Regions from separate parts of the Homo sapiens genome. Here region 1 is linked to region 2. Evidence: fine-mapped expression QTL. Tissue or cell type: whole blood. Region 2 holds a variant in brackets; the other region holds the start of a gene. All regions are shown on one strand. Distances are between the middles of the regions.

The links. PIP is the estimated chance that this variant, and not a neighbour inherited with it, causes the effect.
Region 1: it holds the start of PSAP, and the variant in region 2 is fine-mapped to the expression of PSAP in whole blood (TOPMed, PIP 0.94).

What each region holds. Positions count from the first base shown.
Region 1 is chr10:71,846,300-71,855,865 of GRCh38, forward strand. It overlaps PSAP (prosaposin), which reads right to left and starts at 4,952. Exons shown (of 14, transcript NM_002778.4): 1 at 4,883-4,952. The coding sequence starts at 4,922. RefSeq lists enhancers at 3,211-3,710, 4,102-4,632, 4,633-5,163.
Region 2 is chr10:71,882,745-71,894,093 of GRCh38, forward strand. No RefSeq gene overlaps it. Among named protein-coding and RNA genes, the nearest start is that of LINC03139, 10 kb to the left of the region's middle. RefSeq lists a silencer at 6,334-6,423. The variant A/G (reference allele first, on the strand shown) is at 6,184.

The sequences.
Region 1 (9,566 bases), 37 kb before region 2:
TTACAAATGCCACAAAGTTATTTTTTTGGAACTTCATGTAATAAAAAATAAAGCAATTAGTACTTTTGCAACAGCCAAAATCTTCATCCCAATCACTGTATTTATCATCATTGTTTTAAAGCCCTTAAAAAAAAAAAAAAAAAAGCCAGGTGCGGCGACTCACGCCTGTAATCCCAACACTTTGGGAGGCCGAGGCAGACAGATCACTTGAGGTCAGGAGTTTGAGACCAGCCTGGCTAACATGGCAAAACCCTTTCTCTACTAAAAATACAAAAATTAGCCAGGCATGGTGGCAGGTGCCTGCAATCCCAGCTATCAGCTACCTGGGAGGCTGAGGTATGAGAATCACTTAAACCCGGGAGGTGGAGGTTGCAGTGAGCTGAGATGGTGCCACTGCACTCCAGCCTGGGCAACAGAGTAAGACCCTGTCTCAAAAAAAAAAAAAAAAAAAAAAAAAGGCAAGCAGGGCAATGTAATTCTAATTAGTACTCTCTTTCATTGATCTGAAGAATATCCAGACCCTCCTTCCTGGTGGCAGAACCAAAAAGGAGCCAGAAAGCAAGGCTTACAGCCTGGTAGCCAGTAACCTAGAATCTCTGCTAGAAGCTGCCTCCAAAGCTGCCATGCACACCTGTCTAAGTGGCTTTGGTCTTGGCCTTGAGAACTTCCTAAGCATGCCTCATTAGGTGCTGTTCCCAGCCAGCAACACCCCGCCCTACCCTTCCACTTCCCCACAGCTGCCTGGACATCCCATGGTCTCACTCACCAAGAAAATGGAAGACCAAGTTCTCCTTTCCCTCATCTACAAAATGCCACACCAATCAATCCAACACACTTCAACTCTCATAGTTTGTTCTCAAAACAACCTGTCAGGGCCGGGTGCGGTGGCTCACACCTGTAATCCCAGCACTTTGGGAGGCCGAGGCAGGCGGATTACTTGAGGTCAGGAGTTCAAGACCAGCCTGGCCAACATGGTGAAACCCCATCTCTACTAAAATACAAAAAATTACCTCCCATTTACCCGAGTGTTCAGGGAAGAGGGTCCTTTGGTCAACTAAATATTGTGGTTAACCATAAGCCCATATATACCAGAGGTGGATTTTATAGGCATGGTGGTGGGCACCTATAATCCTAGCTACTCGGGAGGCAGAGGTGGGAAAATCGCTTGAACCCGGAAGGCGGAAGTGGCAGTGAGCCGAGATCGCGCCACTGCACACCAGCCTGGGGACAGAGCAAGACTCCCATCTCAATAACAACCTGTCAGGCTTCTCCCTTTCGGATGCCTCTCTCTCACAAGAGAGAGCTGCTCTCCTTTCTCCTTTCTTCTGCCTATTAAACTTTCTGCTCCAAAAAAAAAAAAAAGAAACAAAACAACCTGTCAAATGTACTTCAAGGACTTGACAAATCACTGATTTGTTAAAACAAACCCTTCTTTCTTCAGGAATTATACTCTTATTTTCACAGAATAAAACTGATTTACTATTAATAAACAGGAGATTTATCCAAAATCCCTGACAGGCCAAGACCTGAAGTTCCTACTGATATTCAGCAGGCCAGGCTATAAATTCACATGTTATTGAAAGAATATATATAACACCTTCTAGCATCCCCAGAAAACATAACTGTCTTAGCGTGGTGTAGACAACATTCAGCAGGCTAGCCACCACACAGCTGACAGCTATCAGGGCATCTAAGCTTCAGGGAGCACCTGCCACATCCCAGGCACCATCCCTCATGCCTTACACCTAGCTGATGAACACGCTCCTTTTTCCACCAGAGGACTCACCTAACAGCAATACCCTCCATGATCCCATTTGTAAAAGATCGAAACTGCAGCCTTCACATCTATGGTGTTCAAAGGTTAACAATGTTTCCTTCGGGGCAAGTGGGACAGGGCAGTGAATGGGTGAACAGGGGCCTCTGGATGCTACTGCACTGCTCCCCAACCTCGGGGGCTGCTCACTTTGTGGTAATTCATCAAGTTGTCTACTTAATCGTCCACGTATGTAACTTACACTAAGTTTTTAAAAGTTAAGAGGTCCATGTGGACAGAGGGATATGGAAAAAGCGAGCACTGTGGAGTCTTGGGTTCTGGTCCTGGCATCCCCAGTAAATGGTCTATGATTTGGGAGAGTCACCTCTGGGCACCTCCAGGTCTTCATTCCTTACAAAGGGGTCAGATTACATGCTCTCCAATTCTCTCATGGTGCCATGGCTTTGCTTTCGCTTTTAGGTGGGGAAAAAGGAGGGGCAGCTGGATGGGCAGAAAAGTAACTCAAAAGCAAGTGTCTCTACCACCAGGACATCACTGAAACACAAAATACAAAGCCCATCCCGATTCAGGGTGGCATTCTGTACTACGACAGTGTCACGAAGAAAGTTCTAAGTGCCTCTCGGGCAGCAGACAATGGCTGCAGTCACCAGGCACTTTCACTAACAAAACTCATTATCATGTCTAGAAATTTTAGGAGTAACATTTTCACAATATCACAAAGGGGCCAGAGCTGTGAAGGCCAGGGAGCATTCAAACACTGTTATCAGCACTGACTTTGGCCTAATCCTAAAGGTAGGACAGCAAAGTTAAACCAAGGCCATTACAATACCTCCCATTTACCCGAGTGTTCACGGAAGAGGGTCCCTTGGTTAACTAAATATTGTGGTTAACCATAAGCCCATATATACCAGAGGTGGATTTTATATTTCCCGAGACACGATTGAGTCCCTTTTGGGTGATGTGAATGAATCAGAACTCTTAAGGGTCTTGTGAGGAGTGACTCAACGTCAACAAGAACAATGGATAATGTAAAAAGAAAGAAAAAAAATTGCCCTGAATCAGTATAAAAAATTTAGAGACCAGCATTAGTTTATTATACAGACCATGGAATAACTGCAGTATAAGCTTGAGTATAAAATCAAAATGATTTTTTTATAAGCAGATCATCTTTCATTGTGTACAAGTAAAACAAATTTAAGAGCTTCGTATAGGGTCAAGATACATTCTTGAGAGCTGCTGAAAGCTAACTCATTTCTTCGGTTTTGCATCAACCCTGTCATCCACTTTGTTACTTTTTATTAAAATTTGGGTAGCTAGGTTAAAAATGGCAGCCAGCCCTTAAACTACATATAGTTACTAAAAAACAGACATTGTGGTGGGGGCTGGGTGCGGTGTCTCACGCCTGTAATCCCAGAACTTTGGGAGGCTGAGGCGGGAGAATGGCTTGAACCCGGAAGGCGGAGGTTGCAGTTAGCCGAGACTACGCCATTGCACCACTCCGGCCTGGGCAACAACAGCGAAACTCCGTCTCAAAAAACAAACAAACAAACAAAACAAACAAACAAAAAAAAAACGGCCAATAGCGTGCAAGACTTTCTTTTCTCTTTTTCTTTTTTTCACAGGTGGGGTCTTGCTATGTTGCCCAGGCTGGTCTCCAACTCCTAGGCTCAAGCGATCCTCCCACCTCGGTGTCCCAATGTGCTGGGATTACAGGCATAAGCCACCGCACCCAGATGCAAGACATTTCAAAGCAAGTGAAATGAGGACCCCATGGCAAAATAACTGGACCAGAAAACCCTATATCGCCTTCAATACCTATGAGAATTAAGCTCCGATTTTTTTTAGCTTGCCCAAATTCCTATCTAAGGGGTGTAGGAATCATACCCTACAAACCATAAACTCTCATCAGATGGGTTTTATTTGACCCCATATATCGTGACTTACTTTCCAATCTGACTCTGGCATAACATTTTATAAGACAAGGAAAAAAAAATCAAAATATCTAACCCCAAAATATATTTCCTTGCCATACCTTGAAATTGCCCTGCAAAGTCTCTTGTGGGAAAAATCCACATTCTATAGAGAATCCCCTTTCCCCTATGTTTTCCTTCCTTCCTCTCCAGATCCAGGAGATAATCAACTAAGAGCCAGTCACCCTTTCATTTCCATAGAAATATTTTACAACGTGCTCGCTCTCTTAGTCGGCTACCTGAGAGCTTCCTCTGCACAATAAAACTTGGTCTCCACAATCCTTTATCTTAACTTGAATACTTTCTTTCTATTGATTCTAGGTTTTCAGATAAACTCAACCAATTATCAACTAGAAAATGTTTAAATTTACCTATGGCCTGGAAGCCCCCCGCCGCTTTGAGTTGTTTCGCCCTTCTGAACCAAACCAACGTATTTCTTAAATGTATTTGATTGATGTCTCGTGCCTCCCGAAAATATGTAAAACCCAGCTGTATCCCAACCACCTTAGGCACATGTTCTCAGGACCTCCTGAGGGCTGTGTCACGGGCCATGGTCACTCATATTTGCCTCAGAATAAATCTCAAAATATTTTTACAGAGTTTGACTCGTTTTGTCAACACCTAGAATCCAGAGTAAATACATATGCAAACGTCAATATAGATGATACACATGTGCTTCCTGCAGCTTCGCTACCCTTACAAACAGGCAACTGAAGCCAACGGCCAAAGTGTCCTGCGGGACGGGGCTCCAGCCCACCTCGATCACGTGCGCCCAGCACAGGCACAACACAGCTGCCCAAGGGGTCACCCTACAAGACTCACCCACCCCCACAGTGGGAAGCGCAGCCTGAGGGAAGGCCTCGGGGCCCCAGCCGCGCAGGAACCCACTCGAGCCCCGAAGGAGATGCTGCCCAGGGCCTGGGCCGTCCTCCCGGGGGCATTTTCGCAGCCCGCCCCCCGCAGCCCCCAGCCGCCCAGAGAAAGCCAGAGAAAGCCAGCGAACGCGCCTGCGCAGTGCGCGCGCCCCCTTGCCAACTAGGGCAGGGGGAGCAGAGGGGCCAGGCCCGGCACAGCCCATTCTGGGGCAGATGGACGCTGCGAGGCACCTCCTCCCCAGGATGAGGGTCCCAGGGCTTACCCGCGCCCAGGAGGCTGGCCAGGAGGAAGAGGGCGTACATAGCGCCGTCTGACTCCGCAGTCTGCAATGCGGAGCGTCAGCTGATCCCCCGCAGATATAAATCTGCCCTGCCCCAAAGCCGTCCAGAGCGCAGGCGCTAACCCCGCCCCATCCGGGCCTGCCCGAGCTCAACAGCGCCCTGACTCAGCGCCTCTGAGGGCGCCTGCGCGAAGGGGAGGCCAATAGGAGGGGGCAATGGGAGGGGCGAAAGGAAGGGCTATGGGGAGGAGTGAGGAAGAACTTGGAGAAAGGGAAGGGAAAGGTCATAAAAGAAAAGCCCTACTAATTGAATAGGTCAGAGATTATATATGTAAAATACCTTTTAAATCTCCACATTGTTGGCCGGCCGCGGTGGCTGACGCCTGTAATCCCAACACTTGGGAGGCCGAGGCGGGCGGAGGGTTCAAGACTAGCCTGGGCAACGTGGTGAAACCCCATCTCTACAAAAAAAAAAATACAAAAAAATTAGCCCATTGTAGTAGCGGGTTTCACATAGAATAGCTTGGGGTTTCACATAGAATAAGTAGTCGTGTAACAGGGTACAGGGCTCAGTCCTGGCCAGGGGCACGTGGGGGCAGGTGGTGGCACCTGGTCAAAGGCAAGTCTGGGCTGGGCATGCTGGCTCACTCCTGTAATCCTAACACTTTGGGAGGCCGAGGCGGGCGGATCATGAGGTCAGGAGTTCAAGACCAGCCTGGCCAATATGGTGAAACCCTGTCTCTACTAAAAATACAAAAATTAGTCAGGCGTGGTGGCGCTCGCCTGTGGTTCCAGCTATTTCAGGAGGCAGAGGCAGGAAAATTGCTTAAACCCGGGAGGTGGAGGTTGCCGTGAGTCAAGATCGCACTACTGCACTGCAGCCTGGACCACAGAGCGAGAGAGATTCCCATCACCAAAAAAAAAAAAACAAAAAACTTTTAAGCCTCACATTGTGGTACCGTTAAAGATGTAATACCATTCCTCACCCATCATAAGAGATCATAAGAGTCACAACCAACACTCCTGTAACGAGACAGCTTAAGAGAAAAGCATAACAAATTTATGTAATCAACGTTTTATGTGACATGGAAGCCTTCAGAAATTAAGACCCAAAGACCCTCTGCCTGTGGCTGCCCCTGCCAGGACCTGAACAGAGAATGATGATGACCCTCTCCAGAAGGATAAGAACCTGCCAACCGCAAGGCAGGGAAAGGAGGGGAATCTTAGCCCCTTAGGGCAGGCACTTAGAGGTCATTTACCTGTAGGGACATTGAGCCTAGGAGAGGGCAAGACGTTTATCCAAGGTCACACAACAGGTAGAGATAGAACCTGGCCCGAAGCCAGGTTTCCTGACCCAGGAAGGGCAAACCTACAGTTCCTCCAACTTCCTCCAATCTGCAATCCGCTCTGGAGAACAACCCCAGGGACTAAGGCCTCAGAACCTTCAGTTCTGCTCCCCTGCAATCTCCCTAAGTGCCCCCAGCCCCCACCACAGCTCTGACTTCCTCTGGGGAGCCAGATGGGGAAGTGTGCCCCATGCACCACAGTGGGCCATGTGAGGCAGCTGAGTGAGTTGGGACAAGATGTGGTCTCAACTGGACGCCTCACAGGTCGGCCTCAGTGGCCAGATGGAGACTTCGTGGCTGCTCCACCTTTGGGCTTCCCAAGGCCAGGCAGAAGCGTGGGGCAGACCACACAACAACTGGTTAAAAGCAAGGGAGCTAGCCGGGCGCGGTGGCTCACGCCTGTAATCCCAGCACTTTGGGAGGCCGAGGCAGGCAGATCACGAGGTCAGGAGATCGAGACCATCCTGGCTAACAGGGTGAAACCCCGTCTCTACTAAAAATACAAAAAATTAGCCGCACGATGTGGCGGGCGCCTGTAGTCCCAGCTACTCGGGAGGCTGAGGCAGGAGAATGGCGTGAACCCGGGAGGCGGAGCTTGCAGTGAGCCGAGATCGTGCCACTGCACTCCAGCCTGGGCAACAACAGCGAAACTCCGTCTCAAAAAAAAAACAAACAAAAAAAGCAAGGGAGCTGGGGCTCTAGGACAAATCCCCCATCCTTCAGCTCCTTGCAGATGGAGGAGCAAAGCATCCCAGTGCTCCATGCAGAGGTTACAGGACCCCAAGCCAAAAGGACGCTCAGAGACCTCAGATCATCCCCTCTCATCTTATAGAGCTACTGACATCTCAGGGCTGGTTAACAACAGAGCCTGAACCAGGACTTGTTTTTTTTGTTTTGTTTTGTTTTGTTTTGTTTTGTTTTTTGTTTGGAGATGGAGGCTCACTCTATCACCCAGGCTGGAGTGCAATGGTGCGATCTCAGCTCACTGCCACTTCTACCTCCCAGGTTCAAGCAATTCTCCTGCCTCAGCCTCCAGAGTAGCTGGGATAACAGGTGCACGCCACCACACCTGGCTAGTTTTCTTGTATTTTTTGGTAGAGACAGGATTTCACCATGTTGACCAGGCTGGTCTCAAACTCTGACCTGAAGTGATCTGCCTGCCTTGGCCTCCCAAAGTGCTGGGATTACAGGTGTGAGCCACCACACCCCTCCTTTTTTTTTTTTTTAAATATTCCTCCTTCATACCTAGAGGAATATGTCAGTGTTTTTGAGAGAAACTTTTGCTGCCTTTCATCTCCTCACCTGTAACTCAACAGTAATATGCTGCTTCATCCGCCTCGTCCTGAACCCCATGAGGACAGAATTTTAACAAAGAATATAAAAGCAATAAGTAGATTATTATTAATTTTTTTACCTTGTCAGTAGACGCTTAAATCCTCTTAAAAAAAAAAAAAAAAAACCTTCTGAACCATCTGCGTGTAGGCAACAAGAGCTGTGAAGCTCCTCAAACCCTCTGGCTCTCTTATGCCTTTCCTAGCTATGTACCCTCAGGGAAATACTCCAGAAGTGAAGGAATATTTTGTCCGAAGTGTTCACAGAAGGGCCCTTTAGAAACATGGAAGCTGGAAAGATCCCAAGTGCTGAACAATGAAGAGATGACTGTGGAAACTGGCTGGACAGAGCAACGGTACTGAAGCAGCTTTGAAACAGGAGGAGGAGGGAGCAAGGGCTAGGCTGCAGCAAGTCTTCCAGGAACGTGGGTCCCAAGAAACATGGGCAGAGTGAGAGGCCAAACCCCATCTGCTAGTAAGCCCTGCTGCTGACTTCCCAGAGAGGATGGCAGAACTGGTGGAGAGCTTCTAGATCCTGGATCCCATCGGGCGCAGTGGCTCACACCTGTAATCCCAGCAATTTGGGAGGTCGAGGCGGGCAGACCACTTGAGGTCAGGAGATCGAGACCAGCCTGGCCAACATGGTGAAACCCCATCTCTACTAAAAATACAAAAATTAGCTGGGTGTATTGGCATGCGCCTGTAATCCTAGCTACCTGGGAGGCTAAGGTATGAGAATCGCTTGAACCCAGGAGGCAGAGGTTGCAGTGAGCTGAGATCGCACCATTGCACTGTAGCCTGGATGACAGAGCGAGACTCTCTCAAAAAAAAAAAAAACCCCAAAAACAAACAAAAAAAGATCCTGCAGCCTGCCGCACCCCAAAGAGAGGATGCACGGGCAGCCATGGCCCTCCACCCTGTCCCTCTCCCTCCCACAAGTGCAGGATTTCAGCCAGGAGGGGAACAGAGAATTGGAAGTAGGGGGGAAATTCTGACTTTGGATTAACTCATCTTGCATTATTTCACTCATGGAAATGTCCACATTGCAATTTTTAAAAAACAAAATTAATATAGGAAATTTTAAAAGAGAAAAGAAAATCCCTTCCACTACCACCCTCTGGGAGCTCAAGTCTTCAAGGAACTGAAAAGATATTTTTCCTTAGAAATGTGAGCCACGCTTAAGGTTTCTCAATGGCCTTCCAGTTCTGGATCTCAGTTCTGCATGAGGCCCCAATTTTCATGTCTGAGATCTCTTGAAATCCCCACCTGTCAGACCCTTTTAATAATTTTCCAGCCGGGCATGGTGGCTCATGCCTGTAATCCCAGCACTTTGGGAGGCCAAGGTGAGAGGATCACTTGAGCCCAGGAGTTGGAGACTATCCTGGGCAACATGACGAAACCCTGTCTTTACAAAAAAATGCAAAAATTAGCCAGGTGTGGCGACACAGGTCTGTGATCCCAGCTACTCCAGAGGCTATGGGACGGGAGGACGGCTTGAGCCCAAGAGGTTGAGGCTGCAGTGGTGCACCTCTGCTTGTCAGCCGGGGCAACGGAGCAAGACCCCATCTCAAATAATAATAATGATGTTCCCTGTGGCCCCAGATGGCCTCCATCTGTTACTTTTTCTACAACTGAAAGTTCCGGCCAAGACAGCCAAGGAGATAAGACATATCTACCATTGAGGCCCAGCCCACCTGCTTGGCCCCAAGGCTCCACTCCAGTGCCCTAAACAGCAACCCTGGAGCCCCCTAATGCCCTGGAAGCCTCCCTTGACCCCTCACCCTGTCTCAAACAATGACAGGTTCTCTCCCTCCAGCATCTTCCTACTCGAGACCTCTGGCTTCAGACCCTCTAGCCTGCACTTGTCCTTGTGCCTGGAATGAGACCTCAGGTGTCACTCAAGGCAGGCTCAGGCTGTCCCAGGGACACCTCTCCCATCACCCACCAATTCCCAACCTCTGACTTCTCCTCCTATACCCCCACCTCCCC
Region 2 (11,349 bases):
AAGTTACTTGGAGCTTCTCTACCCTGATTTTCAAGGAAGGGAAAACAGAACGAACCGTGAGCCAACAGGCCCTGTTTTCTTTCTCTTGGGAGAAGGCTGGCCTTGGGGAGATGTTCTAGGAAAGGTCACCTTTCCACTCCATGGTGCCAGGTAGGAAACCAGAAGGCCTTCCTTACAAACGAAGGGAACATTTCTTGCCAGATCTCTGGAGGAAAACTTGGAGGGAAAGGTTTGCTGCTATCCTGGAGAAGAAAGATAACAGTACTATCCAACCCCATCTGACCTCTGGAAGGCAAAGTCAGGCACATTATCTTTCAAGCCACGTGGGAAGGAAGGCAAGAGCTAGAGGAGAGACATGGAGGAGGCCCAGGGAGGGCAAGTGATTTTCCCAAAGCTACATAGCCAGCCTTAGACCCAGCTATGAGTTGAACCCACAGGACCTTCTCTGTCCATTAAACCACGGGGAAGGAGGACAGAAGCAGGGAAAACTGAGTCTGTTTGCAGGAAGAAGATTCAGAAAAGCAACTGGACTTACTAGAAAACGAAAGAAAAATTATCTTTCGAGGGGCACCACGGCTCCACCTGCGCAGAATGCAATTTGGCAATGAGGAGTCAGGGACTCAAATGTGTTCCTTTCCGTTAGCCCAGTAATTTAACAGCTGGGAATGCGTCCTAAGGCCTATGGCCAGGAAAACACTCATACAGAGATGCTGATCAGGGCATTAGTTCAATGGTAAAAGACTGGAGATGAGCCAAATGTCTGACAATAAGAAAGCTGTTAAGAAAATCAAGACAGTCACAACATGTTATAGGCCCAATCAGAGGGCCATTTGTGAGGGCTTTTTCATAACGGAGAAAAATATGAACATCAAGAAGTCAGGTGTAGAAAAACAGGATGTGAAATAATTTATGCTGAATAACAACAGCTATTTTAAAAAGGCATAGGAGAAAGATAGGAAGCAAATGGGCCAAAACGGTACTGCAGTGGCTTTTGTGGGATGGAACTGGGGAGAACTTGGGGAACTTGGGTTTTTTATTCTTCTTGTTGGCATTTTCTTTAATATATATGTATTGCTTGTTTTTTTTCCAGACAGGGTTTCACTCTTGTTGCCCAAGCTGGGTGCAATGATGCAATCTCAGCTCACTGCAACCTCTGCTTCCCGGGTTCAAGTGATTCTCCTGCCTCAGCCTCCCAAGTAACTGGGATTACAGGCGCGCACCACCACACCTGGCTAATTTTTTGTATTTTTAGTAAAAACAGGGTTTCACTATGTTAGCCACCTGAACTCCTGACCTCAGGTAATCCGCCCCCCTCTGCCTCCCAAAGTGCTGGGATTGCAGGTGTGAGCCACTGCACCCGGCCTGCTTTTTTCTTTAAAAATGAAAAATATTTTACACTTCTTTTCTGATTATAAAATCAGTAATCAGTATGGCCAGGCATGGTGGCACTTTGGGAGCCCGAGGCCGGTGGATCAATTGAGGTCAGGAGTTCAAGACCAGCCTGACCAACATGGTGAAACCCCGTCTCTACTAAAAATACAAAAATTAGCCAGGCTGTGGTGGCATATGCCTGTAATCCCAGCTACTTGGGAGGCTGAGGCATGAGAATCGCTTGAACCTGGGAGTCAGAGGTTGCAGTGAGCCCAGATCGTGCTACTGCACTCCAGCCTGGGCGATAGAACAAGACCTTGTCTCAAAAAACAAAAACAAAAACAAAAACAAAAAACAGTACATTCTGCTGGTAAAAAAATAAAAATACAAACAATATAGATATGTATGAGAGTAAAAAGTGAAAGAACCCCTGTAATTCCACTGCCCAGAGATAACCAGTGTTAATAGTTAATATTTTCTTAGTCATGCACACACACATAAAACACAGGCAGTGAGGTAAGTGGTCACATTCCTGTACCTATATACACATATACACATGGACACCCACATATACACGTACACAGAGTGAAGGGAAAATAGAATCTCAGGACCCCAAACTCACTATGCCAAAGGGAAAAGTTAAGCTTGGAAACTGAGTCACACCAAAAGCTGCCCTTTCTTTTTTTCTTTCTTTCTTTCTTTTTTTTTTCTTTTGAGACAGATTCTCACTCTGTTGCCCAGGCTAGAGTGCAGTGGCACAATGTCAGCTCAATGCAACCTCTGCCTCCTGGGTTCAAGCGATTCTCCTGCCTCAGCCTCCTGAGTAGCTGGTATTATAGGTGCCCACCACTATGCCTGGCTAATTTTCTTATTTTTAGTAGAAATGGGGTTTCACCATGTTGGGCAGGCTGGTTTCGAACTCCTGACCTCAGGTGATCCACCTGCCTCGGCCTCCCAAAACGCTGGGATTACAGGCGTGAGCCACCACACCTGGTCAAACTGCCTTTCTTTTTGTTTCTAAGCAGATAGCTACAAAATAGAAGACCGTGTCTCCGCTGGTGGCTTCCCTCACCCTGACCATGTACATTAACACCTTATCTTCACAGGTATAAGACAAAGACAAGACTAGAAATCACCCCTCCAGCCACCCAGAGACAAATGCAGATTTACTGAGCCGGCGACAGAGGCATAATTGCCTGTGCCTCCACCCTCTCCTTTCATAGGTAACACGTGGATTTGGTGAGCACTAATCAAAGCCTCACAGAAATGTGCCCCCTTATCTCACTGCCTACCCTCCTTTTTTTTTCCTTCCCCACTTTCCCTCCTGCCTGCTCTTTCTCCTTCTAATACTGAAGCCCTCAAAATCTTCTCTGAAAAAATTATGCGGCCACAGATCCCACTGTGGCATATGCCTCTTTTTTGGGGCACGTCCTCAGTCTTGTCAAAATAGACCTCTAAATATTGATGGAGACTTGCCTCAGACACTTTTCTGGGTTACAACACGCATACATACATATACACATACATACTACATATACACATCCGTATCTATACATGCACTTATGCACATATACACATACCTGTGTGTATATATATATACACACATGGACATGCATGTATGCACAAATACATACACATATATACATGTGTGTATATAGAACTACTGTTTTGGAACTTATTTTTTCATGTAACATGATATATCCATTTCTCCACATCAATTCATATAGATCAATCAGCCTCATCCCCTTTATATTTAACATTTTTTCTTTATTTAAAAAAACCTTTTTTTTTAGAGATGGGGTTTCACTATGTTGGCCGGGCTGGTCTCAAACTCCTGACCTCAAGCAAGCCTCCTACCTCAGGCTTCCAAAGTGCTGGAATTACAGGCGTGAGCCATTGCACCTGGCCAGACTCAATCTCTGTTTTTTTTGTTTGTTTGTTTGTTTTTTTTGAGATAAGCTCTCATTCTGTCACCCAGGCTGGACTGCAATAGCGTGAACACAGCTTACTGCAACCTTGACCTCCCCGGGCTCAAGTCATCCTCACCTCAGCTTCCCAAGTAGCTGGGAATATAGGCATGTACCACCAGGCCTGGCTAATTTTTGTATATTTTGTAGACATCGGATTTCACCATGTTGCCCAGGCTGGTCTTGAACTCCTGGGCTCACACAATCCACCCGCCTTGGCCTCCCAAATTGCTGAGATTACAGGTGTGAGCCACCGTGCCTGGCTGCCTCTTCCTTTCCTTTCCTTTCCTTCCTTCTTCCTCCCTTTATTTTTATTTATTTATTTATTTATTTATTTATTTATTTATTTATTTATTGAGATGGAGTTTTGCTCCTGTTGCCCAGGCTGGAGTGCAATGGCCCAATCTCGGCTCACCATAACCTCTACTCCCAGGTTCAAGCGATTCTCCTGCCTCAGCCTTCCGAGTAGCTGGGATTACAGGCATGAGCCACCACGCCCGGCCAATTTTTTTGTATTTTTAGTAGAGACAGGGTTTCTCCATGCTGGTCAGACTGGTCTCGAACTCCCGACCTCAGGTGATCCGCCCACCTTGGCCTCCCAAAGTGCTGGGATTACAGGTGTGAGCCACTGCGCCCAGCCCTTTTTTCTTTTCTTTCTTTTTTCTTTTTTTTTAACTTAAAGACTTCATTCTATTTGATGGCTGCTTAATTTCCACTGTAGGATGCAGAATTTTTTTTTGGTAACAAATCTCTTATCTCTGGATTTTTGTGCTGTTTCCAATTACTTTAATCATGACATATGACTCTGCAATGAACATATACCTCGGCACATGTGTTTTTCCTAGAAGTGTAATTGCTGGAGCAAACAGAAGGCATGTTTAATGCTTTTCCTCCACATTAATACATTCCTTTTAGAAGATTGTACAGGTATGAATTTGAAGGTAGTACTCATTTCCCCATATTTATGCAGCATTAGCATTTTATCTTTGCCAATGGTATAGGTGAGAAAATGTTTCATTGTTGGTTTAATTTGTGTCTCTTTAAAACTTGGTGAGACTCCTTTTCCATGATTACAGCCTATGTGGATTTCTTATTTTGTGAATTGCATTTATGTACATCTTTGGATGGTTATTTATTAGAACTGCATTGCCTTAATAATTGCAACAGTAATATAAATCTTAGTTTTTGTTTTTGTTTTTGTTTTTTTTGAGACAAGAGTCTCACTCTGTTGCCCAGGCTGGAGTGCAGTGGCACAATCTCAGCTCACTGCAACCTCCGCCTGCCTCCCAGTTTCAAGAAATTCTCCCACCTCGGCCTCTCGAATAGCTGGGATTACAGGCTTGTGCCACCATGCCCAGCTAATTTTTGTATTTTTAGTAGAGACGGGGTTTCACCATGTTGGCCAGGCTGGTCTCGAACTCCTGACATCAGGAGATCCACCTGCCTCAGCCTCCCAAAGTGCTGGGATTACAAGCATGAGCCACCATGCCTGGCCTAAATCTTAATTTAAAAAAAATATATATATACTTTTATATATACATATACCTTATATATATCTTTTATATATATACACCTTATATATATCTTTTATATATATATATCATATATATCATATATATATATATATCATATATATATATACTCTCACACACACATATACATATATCTTTACCCCATGATCTCCAATCTGAAGACAGAGAAATTTGCATGAAGGAGGCACACTCAGGGTGGTCTGAGGGCAGAGCCCTGGCGTGGGCAGTGGGAGTTCCTGCTCCAGGCCAGCTTTGCACCTCGCCTGCTGGGAGGGCTCAGGCAGAGCATCCACCTGGGCTTCTGGGAGCCTCTGCTTCCTTCTTCAAGGCCTGTGGCTTTCAAAATCTTAATATGGAATCCCACCATGATAGCCCAGTGTTTCTCAATCCTGGCTGCCCTTTTGAAAAACTGGAGGAACTTTAAAAATATATACCTCTTCTCAGTCCCCAGAGATACTGACTCAATGCCTGACTTAAAAAGCTGCTCAGGCGGGCAAAGTGGCTCACACGTGTAATCTCAACCCTTTAGGAGACTGAGGTAGGAGGATCGTTTGAGCCCAGTAGTTCAGGACCAGCCTGGGCAACATGGCGAGACCCTGTCTCTACATAAATAATAAAAAATATTAGCCGGGTGTGATGGTCCACGCCTATGATCCTAGCTATTCGGGAAGCTGAGGAGGGAGGATCGCTTGAGCCCAGGAGGTCAAGGCTGCAGTGAGCCAGATCGTGCCACTGTGTTCCAGCGTGGGCAACAGCAAAACTCTTGTCTCAAATAAATAAATAAAAAATAAAAAACAAAACAACAACAACAAAAGAAGAAAAAGGAGGAGGAGGAGAGAAAGAAAGAAGGAAGAAAAAGAGAAAGAAAATTAGAATGGGAAGAATTTCAGTTTTATAACTGTAACTGATTATTTTAAACGTATTTTTATTGTAAAAATAAAACCCGGATACAGAATCCAATGGTTCTGATGTACGGCTTAACTAATTACTACAAAGTGAACTGCCTCCGAGACCAAGAAAAAGAACTTTGCCAGCCACAGCAGAAGTCTCTCCACGCGCCCCACCCCAGTCACTCCTTCCTCTTCCATAAGTAGTCATCCTTATTCTGACTCACAGGACGCATTAATTGCGTTTTTAACAGCAAGTCCGCTGGAGGTGGGAGGCGCTCGGGGAAGCTTCTAGGGCCGTCAGGGCCCATTCCCTCCGCTAACACCCCTCTCTCCCCAACCCTCAGGTTGCGCAAGACCTCTCCAGCCCGGCGAACCCGTGGGGCTCAGCAGTCCTCCTCCACGCTCAAGATGCAGTTTGATGCA[A/G]TCCTAGAGGACGCAGTTTCAAGTTTCTCGAGATAGAGAAGCGAAAGAGGATCCGAAACCGCGCTTCACATCTGAATCTGATTTCAGATTCCTCCGGAATATAGCGGAAGCGCGGGGTTGAGGGCGCAGACCGGGGCAGAGGAGAGGCGCGCAGGTCTGCTGGGACGCAGCGCGGGGCGAGCAGTGGCGCACTCGTGGCCTGACGCATCCGCGAGACTGCACGCGGCCAGGCGGGGGCACGAACGGGTTGGGGCATGCGCGGGCAGCGTCGAGTGGGTCCCTTGGGGGTGGGGGTGGGGGGCAGTCGAACTAGGGAGAGAGTCTGTGGAAGGGCTCAGTTGTCACTTCACACCTTTCCCCGCTGTTTATTGATCTTTAACTCTCTCTGTGTGTCCTCTCTCTCTCTCTCTCTCCCTCTCCTCTCTCTGTTTCTCTCTCTCTATCCCTTCCTGTCCACCCTTTGGGGCCATCTCTTCCAAGAAACAACCGTCTCTCCCAGCCCATGGGAAATTGTCTCTCCTGCGAACTTATCCAACCTGAGGGGGTCTCATCCATGCCGATACCGGCTGCTTGTGGAACCTTGTAAGAGTTCTTCCCTCTCCCTGTAAAATGGAGATAAGCTGTGTGGTGCTGAGGCCAGCGCCGGGCACACTCACCCTCACCTTCTTCCTGAGAGAGGAAAGAGCCTGGAGACCTGGATTCTACCTCTGCCCCCAACCCCTACCACAGGGTAGCCCTGCCACCACCTGCTGGTTCTTTGGGCAAGTCACTCTTTTATTGGACTTCCATTTCCTCAGCTCTAAAATGAAGGAGGTGAGCCCAGTGTGGTGGCACCTGTAGTTCCAGCTACCTGCAGGCTGAGGCAGGAGGATCGTTTGAGCCCGGGGGGCAGAGGTTAGAGTGAGCGGAGATCTTGCCACTGCACCCCAGCCTGGGCAACAGAGCAAGACCCTGTCTTTAAAAAAAAAAGTGATTAAAAAATAAAAATAAAATGAAGGAGTTAAACAAACTCAGGAATTTTGTATGAATGGCATAAATGAGCACATTAGAAGGAAGCAACTTTCCTTCTCTCTTTTTTTCAATCCTGTACAGGCCAGCTTCCCCTCTGCCCTCTGCTCCCCTCCTCCCTCCCTACCATCCTCCAGCCCCCCAAAGCCCTCCCAATTTGAGCCTCCTTTTGGAAAACATCTCTGAGTATGGTACCGTTGGTATCGGTGACTAAGAGGCTCCAAGGATACCCTTCTGGGGGATTTCCAAAATAATGAGGAAGTCCATTTCCAAAATCATGGGAAGTCCCAACTGGGCCTCCCAGACAGTTGGCCACTGAGTCTGTCCCCTAAAGGATCTGCTTGACTTGCACAGTCTTAAAGGCATCATGTCTGGTTTTTAAACATAATTTCAGTTAGTAGCCAACAGTTCAGATCAAGGGATCACACGGCCTGTTTGACCTGTTCTTGCAGGGTCATGCATGCTCCACTGAGCCATGGGAAGTGTCCACACCCAGCCATGGGAGCCCTGTGGGATCTGAAACTGACATTTCTGCTTTAGGTGCCTTAAGCTGAAGAAATGCATAGTAGCGGGAATTGGAGTGCAAGTGAGTGCAGTAGGGGAAGTATTTTGCCATAAGAAACCCTAAGCCTCTATGGACAAGAAATTCTCCAGGGGCAGACTGGCCTTGACCCCAGAAATGTCACATTGGACTCGGCCTTGGTTTTCCTCATCTATACAATGGTCAATCAGACTAGTGGTTTGTTTTTTGTTTGTTTGTTTGTTTGTTTTCTCTGTCGCCCAGGCTGGAGTACAGTAGTGCAATCTCGGCTCACTGCAACCTCTGCCTCCTGGGTTCAAGCAATTATCCTGCCTCAGCCTCCCAAGTAGCTGGGACTACAGGTGCACGCCACCACATCCAGCTGATTTTTGTAATTTTAGTAGAGATGAGGTTTCACCATATTGGTCAGGCTGGTCTCAAACTCCTGACCTCAGGTGATTCACCTGCCTTGGCCTCTCAAAGTGCTGGGAATACAGGCGTGAGCTACCACACCGGGCTCAGATTTGTGATCTTTAAGGGTCCTGTGAACTCAGCACTCTAGACATTTTAGGGCCTGTGCACTTCCGCGGTAATGGTTTCTTGTTTTGTCCTCACTCGGAGGGCACACTCCTCAGGCTAGTGGCATGGGCCATTGTCCTAGAGTCCCTGGGGCCCGGCCCTACCATGAATTCTGCGTCTCTCCCTTCAGCCCTTGTCCCTCCCTCCGTGCCATGGCTTGGCACCGTTCTTGTCTTTGCAACCCTCCACAGGCGCCTCCTCCTCTGACCCTTCAAACCTTCCTGCCCTCAAACTCTGTCTCCCTACACCTCCCTGCCTTCCACTCTATGTTTCTGCCTTCTCCTTCAGCCCACAGATATTACTGACCATGGTTGCCAGCCCTATGTTAGGCCTGGGAATTCAAGAGAGAATTAGAGCCCTCTGTGGACTCCCAGCTCTACTAGGGAGAGAGACCCACAAATAGGGATAGAGAGGGGTAAATGCTTCAGTGGGTGAGTACAGGGCCTGCAAGGCCACTCAGCTCAGACTGAGGGGGTCAGAGAGAGCTTCCTGGAGGAGGCAGTATCTGAAGTGAGAAGCGGAGGGAAGTCCACCAGGCACACACAGCAGGTCGGCGAGAGTGCCGCAGGCTGAGGATGCGGCATATGTGAAGGCCCAAGGAAAAGCAGAGCACGCAGCATGCAGGCCCTGGAGGGGTGAGGCTGCACCTGGGGAGGTCTCATCCCAAGGCTGACAGCAGGTTTAGGGTCTGGAAACGCCACATGCCCTGCTGTCTCCCTGGCTGTTCAACTCCTTCCAGGCCTGACATTCACCAGCTCCTTGAAGACAAGATCATGCAGATACTTTTCAGCACACACATCTGGTCTCCCCGGCAAGTGCCCAGCTCTGGGCCTGTACCCTCCCAGCAGCACCACACAAGATGGCCGACCTGAGCTCATCAACTGCTCACTGGGGTCCCTCCCCTGACCCTAACCCTGCTTCAGTCACCCAGTAAGGGATCCCTGGCATGCAACATGTCCTTGGCTCCAGAGGGGTTAGATCCTTGGGGCTCCAGCAGGCAGAGCTGGAGCCTCGTGGCGTTTTGAGTACTCATAGGGACGGTTTGGGTTGTTGCAGGGATGTGGGAGGCACTGCTGGTGTTTGGGCCAGAGACCAGGACGGCCGAACATCCTGCAATGCTCAGAGCCGCCCTTTGGAACAACAACAACAAAAAAACTGTCCAAAGTATTCTGATTTTCAAATGTCCCTTCTGTAGCGTCCCCTAGTTTGTCCCACTTTCTTTCCGTGTCCTGACCGAAAATCTAGAGTGCCTTGACTGTTTCATGACCCAACCAGCTGCAGGGCTTCCCAGCAGGCTTGAACCCAAACCAGGGCCTCGAACATTCCCAGGCACTGATAAAGAAGTCTAGGTTATTGCCCAAAACCCTGAACAAAACTGGCCCCAGGCTTGAGCCCAATTCCTTAAAGCCTCAGAAAAATTCCACACCCTGACCTCATGGCTGTGGACACACCTAGGTGGACCTCCCTTTCTCTCCTGGCTGCCTGAGGATGTGCACGGCCCTGTGGAAGTGAGCTCCCCTAATAAAAGCCTGGACTCATCACCCCGGCGCTTCGTGCTTCTCTCTTTGGAATCCCAGCTGGCCCCCCTTCAGGATGATTCAGGCACTCCCTTGTGGGAACTCCTCTGCCACCACTTTTGGGGCAACCCTAGCTGAGGGCTGGGGGTGAGACAAGACACTTTCACATATTCGTGTCACTGAAAAACCAAACTCCATTTCACACCTAAACATGAGGTATTTTTGAATATTTTATTTTATTTTATTTTTTATTTATTTTATTGTATTTTTTGAGACGGAGTTTTGCTCTTGTTACCCAGGCTGGAGTGCAATTGCACAATCTCGGCTCACTGCAAACTCCGCCTCCCGGGTTCAAGCGATTCTCCTGCCTCAGCCTTCCAAGTAGCTGGGATTACAGGCATGCGCCACCACGCCTGACTAATTTTGTATTTCCAGTAGAGATGGGGTTTCACCATGTTGGTCAGGCTGGTCTTGAACTCCTGACCTCAGGTGATCCACCCACCTCGGCCTCCCAAAGTGCTGAGATTACAGGCACCCAGCCTATTTTTTATTTTTGAGACAGAGTCCCACTTTGTTGCCAGGCTGGAGTGCAGTGGCACAATCTCGGCTCGCTGCAACCTTCTCTTCCAGGGTTCAAGTGATTCTCGTGCCTCAGCCTCCCGAGTAGCTGGAACTACAGGCGTGCACCACCATGCCCAGCTAATTTTTGTATATTCAGTACAGGCGGGGTTTCACCATGTTGCCCAGTCTGGTCTTGAATTCCTGACCTCAGGTTATCCACCTGGCTCGACCTCCCAAAGTGCTGAGATTACAGGTGTGAGCCACTGCACCCAGCCTTTTTGCATATTTTAAAACATACTCTGAGAACACAAATGAATGGAAGATTGGACTTTGTTTTGTAGGGAACTTCGCCAAGAGTTTAACCATTTCAGAGAATCACAGCACTGATAGCGGCTTCTCTCCCAGGTTCAGGTCACCAAAACAGCATCCTCCACCATCGGCGTTGGTGGCTGGGTATCTGTGATGCTTCCCATGCAATGTGAGCAGCTGCCCACTGAGTCCCGGAGTCCTAAGACCCTTCCCTCACAATCCTAAGACAGTATTGCCTTTTCACTGTGATGGCATTGGTGACATAAAAGCCACTGTGGGCAGGGTGCAGCGGCTCGCACCTGTAATCCCAGCACTTTGGGAGGGTGAGGCGGGCAGATAGCTTGAGCCGCAGAGTTTGCCCAGACCAGCCTAGGCAACATGGCAAGACCCCGTCTCTACAAGTAATAATAATAATAATAATAATAATAATAATAAAATTATCTGGGCATGGTGGCACGCATCTATAGTCCCAGCTACATGGGAGGCTTAGGTGGGAGAATTACTTGTGCTCGGGTGGTAGAGGCTGCAGTGAGCCGTGATCGTGCCGTTGCACTCCAGCCTCAAAAAAAAAAAAAAAAAAAAAAGCCACTATGGGTGAAACTGCTGGAACTTCAGGAAGCAAGGCAGTGGCCACAGACTAGGCAGGTCTCTGTGCACTCCCCTAGATAAGCA